Homo sapiens: one gene and its partner. The protein of the gene in region 1 purifies or fractionates together with the protein of each later gene. This does not show direct contact. Each region holds a gene or a part of one and is shown in the gene's direction. Other genes may lie near its edges.

Region 1 (7,039 bases):
AATTATGAAGAACGTATATCTGATAGAATCATTATATAGCAAGTTAGAAAAAACTGACACAAAATAGTGCCTAGAGCAAGACCTTACTTTCCAGTTAAAAACATACTAATATTCTCTTTATTGTCTTTTCTTTTTTCCCATTAAAAAATGTTTTTAAGCAAGTTCTACTTTGTATTTTTTAGAAGCCAAAATGCTAAAAATTTTGTTTTTTAAAATTTTTCTACCTACTTTTTAATGTAATTTTTTAAATTGGAAAATTCCTATCAGTTTTCTATTCAATTATGCACTGTGGATTTAGTACATATTGCATATATATATACCGAAAGCCAGTGCCTGTCAATCTAATTGCCATATTATTTTTAGGAATGGGTAGGAGAGCATTGCTTAAAAGAACCTGAAAGATTATGTACAGACAAAGAACTTATATTGGACCCTGTGCTTTCAAATATGCAAGCACAGAAATTACTGCAGCTTATCTGTTATCCTCATGGCATTAAAGAATGTACCGAGGGGGACAATCTGCAAAGACAGCACATTAAGCGTATTCTTCAGGTCAGTCGTATACAGATTGTGTTTCTGTCATTTGATAAATTCTTCGTAATAATAAAAAGAGTTACTTCCTCTCTTTTTTTGTCCTTGCTAATTTGTGATTTCAATTCTGATTTTTATTCCCACACATTTTCTGTGGAATTGACATACTTTATTTTTGGGTGGATGTACATGCTGCAAATTGTATATGATCATCAAACAAATATTGATATTTTAAATCAGTATTGTATTTACATGAGAAATATGCTTCAGAGAGGGGCTATGTTAAATATATTATTAAAGAAATATTGAAATCATTTTGGATTGGGATTGGTTAAATAGATTTTGAAAGGAGAAATGCTTATTTAGTTTCAGTGCATAGCTGAGTCAGGCACAGTATTAACTAATTAATAATTAATGTTTCTGTTTATTGGTTTGTATCGCTACTGAATATATATGCAGCAAGATTGGGAACCTTTTGACTCATATAAATTATTTCATTGTGTATGATTATTCTGCTCTTTCTTGAGAGAAGGAGTACTGTAAGAAATTACTGTATTTTAACACATTTGATACCCATAATGTTTTAATTCTTTCCATTTTTCCCAGAATCTTGAGCAGTGGACACTGAGGCAATCCTGGTTAGAACTCCAGCTAATGATCAAACAGTGCTTGAAGGACCCTGTGAGTTTATATTGAAAGCTTATCTCTGTATGAAATTTTATAAAAAGCAAAAACACGTTGATGTTTGAGGATAAAGGAATACACATATGTGCCAGTATTCTTATATCTAACTCTAGGGCTCTGGTTCTGTGGCCGAAATGAACAACTTACTGGACAATATTGCAAAGGCAACAATAGAGGTATTCCAGCAGTCTGCAGACCTAAATAATTCTTCTAATTCTGGCATGAGCCTCTTCAACCCAAACAGTATTGGAAGTGCTGATACAAGTAGCACGAGACAGAATGGAATAAAGACATTCCTAAGGTATTTTTGTCTGTTGTTTTATTGAACTGTCATGAATTTTTCACAAGTAACGGTAAATTTTGTGTAGCACAGTGATTTTTCTTTAAGTCATAGGAATGTGAAGAACATAGTTACTTGTAAGCAGGGATTATTATTAATAAGTTAATGAGTAAAGCTGGGGTGAATGATAGCTTCGGAATATTTGATTGAGTAGGCTTAAACACCTTGAAACTGCAGGTGAACTCAGGTTTGGTTCATGCTTTCAGTGTCCCTTAGTCTACTGTGTTACGTAGTATTCATTATATGGGAAACGCTTTTTCCACCATTTTTATTAATTAATTATTTTGCACAAATATATCCTGGTAATTTTTGTGCAGAATTAGAACCAGTAGGCATATAAAGTCTTAAAGTAATTATTTAATCATGAAAGGCTGATTTGTATTTCATCATTTTGGTATAAAGTATAACTAGCGAATTTTAAACCTTAAAAATTAGCTATTAGTATGCTTACATATAATATTTCATATTGTAACTGTGACAGAAAAGTATATTGTTTGTTGGACAAAGTGATTGTTTTTAATTAGAGAGAGGGGGTCATCGGAAAACATTAAAGTCAGTTTAGTTACAATATCCTTCCAGAACTGCATGTTTTATTGCTTTCTGTAGGCTTAGGTGGAAAGCTCATGCAAATGTCTAGTGTTCGGAAAAAGGAAAGATAATACAGAAATAAAAGGGAAATTTTAGAACAGTCTGTGTGTCTCATACATCAAAGTTTCGCTTTGGAGTTTCTGTTATAACTGTGAGAGCAGGGGAAAGGATGCTTTCTCCGGTGTAACACCTGTTTCTGATTTTAGTTCCTCCGAACGCAGGGGTGTATGGTTGGTGGCCCCCCTCATCGCCAGGTTGCCAACTTCTGTGCAAGGAAGAGTGCTGAAAGCCGCTGGGGAAGAGCTGGAGAAGGGACAGCACTTGGGTTCTTCTTCCAAAAAGGAAAGGGACAGACAGAAACAGAAAAGGTGTGGCTGGAAGATGGGCGTCTGTGTGAGAGTTTAAAGAATAATTGAGAAAGTCTCACTTCCTGTAAACCTGTGTGGTCACTGTACCCACAGTCCACTGAAATTTAGTTTTTAAATGGAACTGGGAATATTCTATTAGGCAAGGCTGTCTTATTCCTAAAAAATTTCAGGTTATAATCCTTAATACATTAGTTCTCAATTCTGCCTTTATATCCAAATCACTGCTGAACTGTTAAAAACAGTGATTTCCGAGACCCGCTTTAGACCAACTGAATCAGATCTGGATAGCTACCTGATCCCTGTATTTTATTTTTAATTATTTCTATTTTTTTATTATTTAGATATTTATGTTTAAAATAAATATAATGTATAATTCTGGCATGTTGGTGTCTGAACTAGTTGCTCATATTTTTAACATTTAGGGCTCCTGTTCTAGACTAGACATTAAGACTCCTCGGCCACCACAACTAATGTTTTCTTAATTTATTTTATGCCCAAGAAAAGGTTTCAAGTAATTATATTTGAAAACCGTGTTACTGAGAAAGAAAGAAACCTCACCCTAATGTGAAAATGCCAAGAAACCTAGGAGTAAAGGAAAAAAATTGATAATTTCTTCCATTAAAAAAATATTTTAAGCACATAGATTTCTTGTCCACTAATGAATAATACTATAGTAGCCACCATTTATTGACTGCTTACAGAATGGCAACTCCTCTCTAAAACTCATTATGTACATGAGCTTTTAAAATTCTTATAGCAATCATGTGGTAGGTACTCTCATTATCTTCTTTATATCATGTTGAAACAGACACTTAAAGGTTACATGAGTTGCTCCAGGACACACAGTGAAGGACATAAAGCCTGGGTTTAAATCCAGGAGGTCTGGCTTCTGAGCTTGTGCTCTTAACTACAGTACATTTTGGTAGAGACCCAGCATTGTATGTACTGTATTTGTTTTACATCTGGTTGTTTTACCATGTTGGCCAGGATTAATTAACCAACAAGGAAGCATAATTCTAATTTTCAAATCATATTTGCTGATAGGTGAGTGTATGTGCATTGCCTAACTTCCCATAGGCAGGACAGATGGTATTGAAGAGACTTGAAAGATCGCTCTTCCCACATCAGGGGCTCTTTATTCTGCCCATGGAGAATAATGCTGATTGAAATATTTTGGCCTAGGTCTCATTTTAAGAAATTTGTCTTTCCAACATGGCGCTTTGTTTGTCAATATGATTTGTTGATTATTCTCTAATTGAAGACATTTTGTTAAAATGCCAATTTAAAACAGAATTTTTAACCAAATGCCTTGACACCTCTTTACCAGTGGATGCTGCGGGCTATGTTGGAGCCTGTGGGCTGTGTTGGAGCTGCACACTAGGGGTCGCCAGCAAGTACACTGTTTTTGGAGTCCTCAGCCCTGGCTGATGAATTAGCTCTACTAACACCCTGCTTTTTGGTCTTGGGAAATGTGCTGAAAAACAAAATCAAACCCCAAAACAAGCTCAACAGACATATATATAGGCCTGTTTTCCCAGACTCTAAAACAAGAGTTTTATATGAGAACTTTAAAAATTTTTAATTTTATCCTGTGTATAAATTGATATTCTTTCTGATGTACATTTTTAAATTCTGCATATTGATGTAGAAGATGAATTCACTGTCTTCTACCCTCACTGCCCGGCATGCTCACATGCAGTATGGTTTGATGCTAGTTTGAGAATGGCTTCGAGGGCAATTAGAGCATACGAAGTGATTTAGAAGCATTACAGTGGCTTTTAATTTTATAAGTAGAGGTATGATTTAAATTTTCAAGCAGTCTTTGGCTATTTACCACCTCTCTTATTTATCTAATAGTGAGGCAAAGAAATGAATGTTGCCAGAGGAAGTAATGCATTATTTCTAACTAGATCTGTTGTTATTATTACTTCCTTTGTAGTATGTCTCTTTTGAGTCAACAACCCTTCCTCTCACTGGTACTTACCTGCCTTAAGGGACAAGATGAACAAAGGGAAGGCCTCCTAACATCTCTCCAGAATCAAGTTAACCAGGTAAAGTATAGTATAATATTAAGACAGGCAAATATCTTTCTAACGGCATTCATTTATTTGCCTTTCAAATACTGAGATTAAATTAATAAGGGCCAGGTGTGGTGGCTCATGCCTGTAATCCCAGCACTTTGGGAGGCGGAGGCTGGTGGATCACCTGAGGCCAGGAGTTCGAGACCAGCCTGGCCAACATGGTGAAACCCCGTCTGTACTAAAAATACAAAAATTAGCCGGGCATGATGGTGTGCGCCTATGATCCCAGCTACTCGGGAGGCCAAGGCAGGAGAATTGCTTGAACCTGGGAGGCAGAGGCTGCAGTGAGCTGAGATCGCGCCATTGCACACCAGCCTGGGAAACAATAGTGAAACTCTGTCTCAAAAAAAAAAAAAAAAAACAACTAGTAAGGTTACAAAATGTTTTGAGTAGACGCTGAGAAACAATCCATGCCTTATTCTTCTACCTGGCATTGTAGACACCACAAGATTAACAACTTTATATTAATGAGATATATACAATAAATGTGTACTGCCTATAAAAGTAAAATTTTATATATTGCATATAACTTTGAACTATCTGCCCGTCTCCTAACTCTGCCTCATAGGAGAGGACCTGGAGCAATCTATGCTGCAGTAGGCATGGCAGTGAGTCCAGCTCCTCAAGCTTGGATGCCACATTATCAGGCACGCTTTCAGCTTGAAATCTGTAGGTTCAGAAACTCAGTTGTATTGATGCCAACCAAGTACACAAGAAATAAATCAGAAGGCATGTTGGTTTATTTAGAAATAATTTGGACATTGCCTTTTCACCAAACACAGTTCTCCTGGTCACTGTTTGAGGCTCTTGCATCTATGTACTATAAGGAAACTGAGCATTCACAACAGAAATTGGAGAGCATGGAATTAAGCAAAGTGGATAGATTGGTCTTATGAGGTGTTTTATCCTGATACACAGCCTAATTGACCCCTTCTTGTGGCACTGTGTTTCTATGACACCATGTCTTTCCCTCGAATGGTACTAGATGGACATGGACAAGGACACTTAATCTTATTTGATCCTCTTGTCATTTCTCACCTTTTGGGTAGGAGAGATCTAGATATAGCAATCATAGTGAACCTTTTTAAATGGAAGTCACATATTACCTCAGTATACCTAGTATAAAAAATTCGGGCTGATAAGGCCAGACATGATTTGACACTGGCTCTCTCTCCTACCTTGTCTCCTACCAGTCATGGCCCTCTTTCCTCCATGGTTGTTGCACTGGCCATGTTACTGTTCTTGAACTTGCTGAGCAAATTCTCATTTCAGTGCCTGTGCATCTTTTCTTCCCTTTAGGTGGAAAGATTCCCTTCCAGAGATTAGCATGGCCTGCTCCCTTCATTCAGTTCTCTGTTAAGATGTTACCTCCTTCGGGAGGCCTTTGATCACCTCTAAAAATAGGACCACAGCCATTCTGTATGCCATTGCCATGCCTCAAACCACTTGTTACACTTAGTTTTATTTGTCCCACTACTATTATTTGAGCTCCATGAGAGCTTGTTGTTTAGTTAACTACCTTGCCCCCTTAAGCCAGCCTTAGGGAGGGGTTCATTTCTTCTGATGAGATTTGGGAAGTGCTTTCCTCTCACCTTGCAGGGTACTTACAGGTCATCTGTTGGGATGGAGTACTTCTGCATGTGACTCATTTGAACTCTTTTAAGATGACTCTCATTAATGACCATATTTCAGAGCATGATAGGGTTTTTGTTAGTGGTTTTTTGTTTTTGTTTTGAATTGCACTTTTTTTTTGCTCATCTCATCTGATTTTAGGGTGTTGCCCACTTGTGGCTCCCTTTCCTAAGCAAATTTTTCCTTTTCCAGCATTAGTGTGAGTCAGTGAGGAAGTGAAGAAGCAGCCCACTTTATAAACTGATAAAGCCACTTGGCTGATGTCTGCAATGCCATATTTTTCAAAGTACCGTGCGTTCTCTTTATCAAGGAAGACACATACATAAGATAGCAGACCTTCTCTTCTATAAAACATCAAAATAATACATTTGCTAGGGTTCAGCAAGTCCCTAGAAATATAACAGGACTGAGGCAAAATGTAATTCTCTCTCTCCAGTGTTTTTCTTCGTAAGATCAATGAGGTAATGTATTTTAAAAGTTTTTATTAATGCTTAATTTGATGGCCCTCTCAAGCATTTTCCCAGACTTAATCATAGGCTAGCTATATAATTATATAAGATTTTCTTCCTCCACCTAGAACGGCAAATGCACAAATAAATAGCCAGATTTCTTTCTGCATGGAGGAAGAAGAAAGCTAAAATTTTATTTAGCTTTGTTTGTTAATTTGTTAAAGATAAGAAGTGGTTTTTTGCTATCAGTATAAAGCTCAATTTATCTTTAAATGAGAGAAAAATTAAACTTTAATGGGGAGTTTTTTTCCGGATCTTAGATTTTAAGTAACTGGAGAGAAGAACGATACCAAGATGACATAAAAG
Region 2 (7,039 bases), on another chromosome or scaffold:
ATAAGAGGCTGGAAATGCAAGATTTACATCTGAGTTTTTCACCTTTAATTAAAAATATTCTCTGGGTCGGGTGCGGTGGCTCACGCCTGTAATCCCAGCACTTTGGGAGGCCGAGGCGGGTGGATCACGAGGTCAGGAGATCGAGACCATCCTGGTGAACATGGTGAAACCCCGTCTCTATTAAAAATACAAAAGGAATTAGCCGGGCATGGTGGCGGGTACTTGTAGTCCCAGCTGCTCGGGAGGCTGAGGCAGGACAATGGCGTGAACCCGGGAGGTGGAGCTTGCAGTGAGCCGAGATCCCGCCACTGCACTCCAGCCAGGGCGACAGAGCGAGACTCTGTCTCAAAAAAAAAAAAAAGTTATTTGTTCACCTTTTTGTTTTGCAGGAAGAGAGGCTTTTGACCCAACTCTCCTTTTTATTTAATATTTATACTTTTGAATATTTTTTGTAGAGACCGGGTCTTGCTGTGTTGCCAGAGCTAGTCTTGAACTCCTGGGCTCAAGTGATCTTCCTGTCTCAGCCTCCCAAAATGCTGGGATTACAAGTGTGAGCCATCATGCTGGACCTCCAACTCTCTTTTACTTTAAAAAAAAAAAAAAATCCGGTTTAAAAGTTGTTCTTTTTTTGTTTTTTCGTTTTACAGACAGGGTCTTGCTGTGTTGTTCAGGTTGGTCTTGAACTCCTGGCTTCCCAAAGTGCTGGCATTACAGGCTCATGCCACCACACCCAGCCAAATGTTACTCTTGAAGAGAAACAAGTTCAGAATATTTCTGAACTTTTTAATACAAGCAAGAATTCATAAAATAAATTTTCTTCATTATTAAGAAGTCGCACATGACAATTTATGGTTACAAATTTCAAGACTGCATTTTTCCAGTTAGAAACATTTAAAAATTTGATCGATAAAGGAATATTGTTAAAAAGTTCTTTTGTTGGCCGGGCGCCGTGGCTCACACCTTTAATCCCAGCACTTTGGGAAGCCGAGGCAGGTGGATCACCTGAGACCAGGAGACCAGCCTGGCCAACAAGACGAAACCCCGTCTCTTCTAAAAATACAAAAATTAGCCGAGCGTGGTGCCTTGCATGGCTGACACAGCTTACAGAGTTTGTTTTGTCAGGGTTTCAAATGAGTGGTTGATGACTACATAACTTAATGTATGTCATGAAATTCTTCACAATGAGTACATGTAGATGCATATAGCTAATAGGTACAATAGTATTTGCCTGTGTTTGATGGGTTTTTCACAATCGGTTTGTAGTTAGATTATTGTATTTGCATTTTTGTTGGACACTTACAGAAGATTAAAGATTTGTCAGTATCATCAGAGGATTAGAACTTTCCAAAGTTTTAGATCATCTAGTTCAATTTCCTCTTTTTACAAATGAGAAACCTAGAGCTTTGAGAGGTTAACTGTCATGCTCATAGTGTCACAGCAGAGATAGCCTGTAATCCACATCTAACTCAAGAGTTCTTGCATTTTCCTTCCTAATACCATGGGAGGAAAAACAAAAAAAGGCCATCTTACCTCCAGTCTTGATAACTTACTGTATAAACCTTTTTGCATGCCAAAAGTGCATTTATACCAAAAAAAAATATGGAAAAGGGAAATTATCACATATACAGGACATTTACAAAGTGGGAGTGCAGGACTGTAGATTCTACTACATGTAGCTGCTGCTTTTCTTTTTTCTTTTCTTTTTTTTTTTTGAGATGGAGTTTGCTCTTGTTGCCCAGGCTGGAGTGCAATTGTGCGATCTCAGCTCACTGCAACCTCCGCCTCTTGGGTTCCAGCGATTGTCCTGCCTCAGCCTCCTGAGTAGCTGGGATTACAGGCATGCACCACCACGCCTGGCTGATTTTGTATTTTTAATAGAGATGGGGTTTCTCCATGTTGGTTAGGCTGGTCTCGAACTCCCAACCTCAGGTGATCCACCTGCCTCGGCCTCCCAAAGTGCTGGGATTATAGGCGTGAGCCACCTTACCTGGCCATGCTGCTGCTTTTCATCTGTTTTTTTCTTCATCCTCACTGTCAACACTTTTGGCCATTATTTCTGATTTGGATAGTAGCTGGTTGGTCTCTCACTATAGTCCAAGATCCAAATTGCTGCTAGTGTCATTTTCCTATAAAATCAATCATGTCATATCTCTTTTTGGAAAGCTATACGTTTGCTATGGCTTATACTATCAGATCCAATCTCATCTCTTTCTCTTCTCTCCTTGCATGATTCATACTTGAGACTTAGATCCAATTTTAATTCCTTAGTTTGTCATGTAAAGACATTTACATTCAGACCCTGAAGTCTGTAGTCTTTATACCTGCCACCATTTCTTTTTTCCAGTTGCATTTAAGCTATATACTTCTGTAGCATTGAACTCGTATTTTCTGGTACTTAAGTCCTTTCATGTCTCATTTTCTTTGTTCTACATTCACTTTAGAATGGTGTTGCTGTGCCATTCTTCCCTCCCCCTTTTCCCTTATCCTTACAAACCTGTAAAACTCATACTTCAATACCCAACTCAAATAGCTTTCCTCCTTGAAGCCTTCTCTTAATCACTCGGTGTACTCCTCAGCTGTGTTTCTACCCCTTTGTTCTTACATATGTAAAGTCACTGTAAGTGATACTAATATGCCTCATAAATTACTAGCTGCAAAAGGATCATCATTCTGTCCAGTGCCTTGTACAGAGTTGGTCACATAATACACAAAATTATATTCAATTAAAAATGCCTTTAATTGGTAAAGATGCTCCACTGATTTTAAAAGCAGACCAAATTCCTTTAAAAACGCAAGTTTATTTACTTTTCTTAAAAAACGAAGTTTTTAGTAATTGCTTTGAAAGCCTGAAATACAGTAATGTTATATGAAATAGGTGGTTAGATGTAAATACTTCTAATGTATTTTTTCTAAGAAATGTACTGCTTTTCCAAACAGTTGATAAATTTCTTTTTTCATTTTTTTCACTTGAGACTGTCTCACTCTATCACCAAGGCTGGAGTGCTGTCGTGCAGTCGTAGCTGACTGTAGCCTTGAACTCCTGGGCTCAAGTGATCCTCCTGCCTCAGGCTCTTGCGTAGCTAGGACCACAGATGCACGTGCTGGCTAATTTTTGTTGTTGTTTTGTAGAGACGAGGTCTCACTGTGTTCACTGTGTTGCCCAGGCTGGTCTCGAACTCCTGGGCTCCAGTGATCCTTCTGCTTCAGCCTCCCAAAGTGCTGGGATTACAGACATGAGTCACTGTGCCTGGCCCATTTCTTTTTTTTTTTTTTGAGATGGAGTCTCGCTGTCTCCCAGGCTGGAGTGCAGTGGCGCAGTCTCGGCTCACTGCAAGCTGCGCCTCCTGGGTTCATGCCATTCTCCTGCCTCAGCCTCCCGAGTAGCTGGGACTACAGGCGCCCACCACCATGCCCGGCTAATTTTTTTTTTTTTTTGTATTTTTAGTAGAGATGGGGTTTCCCCGTGTTAGCCAGGATGGTCTAAATCTCCTGACCTCATGATCCACTTGCCTCGGCCTCCCAAAGTGCCGGGATTACAAGTGTGAGCCACCACGCCTGGCCCCATTTCTTTGAACAGATATTAGATATTGCTAAGGAAAATAGGCATATTTTTGAGAAATAAATATTTTCTCTTAGGCCAGCTCTTTTAGAATTGCTAGACTAGTAATCTGTCTTCTGTGCTTTTACTAGCTATTTTATAGAGATGCTTAGAAAATACCAGTATTTAAATACATTTTAGGACAAATTTTGGTTTTATGGGTTTATGGTAAAAAATTAAGTATCTTTAACACTTAGTAAATGAAGTAGACATCTGTTTATGTTTAACTGGTTTGTCATTTTTGTAATGCAAGCCTTCAAAAACTTTTTGAGGCCTAAGGGAAATTAATGTGTTCTTTTTCAATGAAATTTGATAATCTAGAGCAGTGATCAGCAAACTTTTTCTGGCAGATACTAAATATTTTAGGCCTTTTGGGCTTTACTGTCTCTGGTGCAATTACTCAACTCTATTGTAGTGCCAAAGCATCGACAGATAATACGTAAACCAGTATGGATAAGGATGGCTGTGTTCCAGTAGACCTTTATTTATACAAATAAGCAGTTGGCTGAATTTAGTCTGCAGGCTATAGTTTGTTGACTCCTGGTGTAGAGCAGTGATGTCCAATAGAACTTTCTGCAGTGATCTGAAAATGTTTAGCATCTGTGCTGTCCAATATGCTAGCCACAAGCCACACGCCACACATAGGTATCGATTACTGGAATGTAGTTAGTGTGATTAGAAACTAATTAGTAGCTATCACATTGGACTGTGTAGGTTTAGAGTCTTTGGATGAGTGGCTTAGCAACAAATAATTCTCTGATCCATCAAGTGACCTTTCAATAAAAATGTTTAAATCAGGGTGTGGATAAATAGGAAAACTGTTATGTCTTTTTTCAAGTTACAGGAGAAATATTAAGGCTGAAATAGCTTGATAAAGCAAACCAATACTTGAAGAACTATCAATTTATGAATGGAATCAAGGATATTTAACTACTTTTTCAAAAAAGTATTTTATGGCCGGATGAGGTGGGAGGATTGCTTGAGCCCAGGAGTTTGAGGCTATAGTGAGCTATGATGATGCCATTGCACTTCAGCATGGGCAGCAGAACGAGACTCTCTTAAAAAAAAAAAAAGGTATTATAAAAAAAAGTTTGTAAATAGTATATGTGCGTAAAAATATACAATGTGGCTGGGCGCGGTGGCTTATGCCTATAATCCCAGCTCTTTGGGGAGGCCGAGGTGGGCAGATCACTTGAGGCAAGGAGATCAAGGCCAGCCTTGCCAACAGCGAAAACTCCGTCTCTACTAAAAATACAAAAAATTAGCCGGGCGTGGTAGTACACACCTGTAATCCCAGCTACTCGGGAGGCTAAGGCACAATAATTGCTTGAACCTGGGAGGTGGAAGCTGCAGTGAGCTAATATTGCACCACTGCACTCCAGCCTGGGTGACAGAGTGAGACTCTGTTTCAATAAAACAAAAATAACAAAAAACCACCAGTGTAACGTAAGTCATCCCTTTCCCAGCCATTCTTTCCCTTTTTTAGGGGCAGTCATTCTTGGTTGTCCTTTAAGAGGATTTTCTTTTGGGGTATGTGCATGTGTGTTAACTTAAAGATGTCATTAAATATGACATGCTAGTGTGCTGCACACTTTTCTATTTTTAGATCATGGCTCACTGCAGCTTTGGCTGCCTGGGCTCAAGCAAGTCTGTCTCTTGGGCTCAAGCGATTGTTTCACCTCAGCCTCCTGAGTAACTGGGACTACAGATGTGGGCCATGCCCAGCTTTTTTTTTTTTTTTTAAATTATTTGTAGAGATGAGGTCTTGCTATGTCTCTCAGTCTGGTCTTGAACTCCTGGCCTCAAGTAATCCTCCTACCTTGACCTCCCAAAGTGCTGGGGTTACAGGCATAAGCCATCATGCTTGGCCCTATTTTTATTTTTATTTTTATTTATTTAATTTATTTATTGAGACGGAGTCTTTCTCTGTCACCCAGGCTGGAGTGCAGTGGGAAGATCTTGGCTCACTGCAACCACCACCTCCCAGGTTCAAGCAATTTTCCTGCCTCAGCCTCCTGAGTAGCGGGGACCACAGGCATATACCACTATACCTGGCTAATTTTTTGTATTTTTAGTAGAGACAGTGTTCACCATGTTGGCCAGGCTGGTCTCGAACTCCTGACCTCAAGTGATCCATCTGCCTCAGCCTCCCAAAGTGCTGGGATTACAGGCGTGAGCCACAGTGCTTGGCCCATATTTTAAATCTTAAACATTGCTTAAACATTATGACATATCTATATACAGAGATGCCTTGTTTCTCTTAATAGTTTTGTTGTATCTCATTGTATTGACTTACATCATTGGCTGTCTCCAGTCTTGCTAGTACTAACACTGAAGTGAATATCCTAGTAAGCACAGCATTTTGTACCTATTAATGTGTCTGTAAGTTAAAGTCCTAGAAGCTGTTTACCTTTGGAAGTAATGGCTTGGAATGGTTTACTAATATGGTGATGTATAAGATAGAAATATCTGAAGACTGGAGATGGGGGGGTTGGCTAAGAATAAGGAAGTGAAATGTTAAGACAATAATAATTTTTTTTTTTTTTTGAGATGGAGTTTCGCTCTTCTTGCCCAGGCTGTTGTGTGATGGCACGATCTTGGCTCACCGCAACCTCTGCCTCCCGGGTTTAAGCGATTCTCCTGCCTCAGCCTCCCAAGTAGCTGGGATTACAGGAATGCGCCACCATGCCTAGCTAATTTTGTATTTTTTAGTAGAAACGGGGTTTCATCATGTTGGCCGGGCTGGTCTCAAACTCTTGACCTCAGGTGATCTGCCCACCTCGGCCTCCCAAAGTGCTGGGATTACAAGCGTCAGCCACTGCACCCAGCTGACAGTGATAATTAACACATAAAAATGAGCTATAAATCATTTGTTAAAGGAAGTACAAGTTACTTACTTTTTTTTTTTTTTTTTGAGAAGTGTTATCCAGGCTGGGGTGCAGTGGCACGATCTTGGCTCACTGTACCTCTGCCTCCTGGGCTTAAGCTACTTTCTCATGGCTACTGTTTTAGGAGCATGGAAAAGGCATGTCTCTGAGTTTTACATAGGAAGAGTAGATCCATGGAAAGGTTTTTAATGCAATCTATGTCAGTGTTGATGAATTAAGTATTTTTATTTTTTAAAGTATATAAAATATAGTGTCCTACATTTTTGAACTTAATATGCTAGACAAATAAGTTCATATGTGGTGTTATAAATTGTGTACAGTTGACTGTTGAACAGCAGGAGTTTGAACTGTGTGGGTCCACTTACACGCAGATTTGTGAAACCTGCGTATATGAGGGCCAACTTTTTGTATAGGTGGGTTCTCCAGGGCCAACTGCAGGACCTGAGTATATGTGGGTTTTGGTATATGCAGGGGTCCCAGAACCAACCCTTTAGGTATACTGAGGGACATCTATTTGTTTTGAAAAATTATTCTATAGTGCAGGGTTAGATGA

What was found. The genes of interacting proteins can lie anywhere in the genome.
Region 2: the proteins of MED12L (region 1) and CDK19 purify together in Homo sapiens (affinity purification with mass spectrometry; 5 studies listed by BioGRID and IntAct, with this or other methods). This does not show direct contact.

The regions. Positions count from the first base shown.
Region 1 is NC_000003.12:151,375,663-151,382,701, forward strand, and holds part of MED12L (mediator of RNA polymerase II transcription subunit 12-like protein), read left to right. Parts: intron 1-363; coding exon 364-552; intron 553-1,137; coding exon 1,138-1,212; intron 1,213-1,328; coding exon 1,329-1,516; intron 1,517-2,349; coding exon 2,350-2,511; intron 2,512-4,450; coding exon 4,451-4,562; intron 4,563-6,993; coding exon 6,994-7,039. UniProt on the Homo sapiens protein: May be a component of the Mediator complex, a coactivator involved in the regulated transcription of nearly all RNA polymerase II-dependent genes.
Region 2 is NC_000006.12:110,805,447-110,812,485, reverse strand, and holds part of CDK19 (cyclin-dependent kinase 19), read left to right. Parts: intron 1-7,039.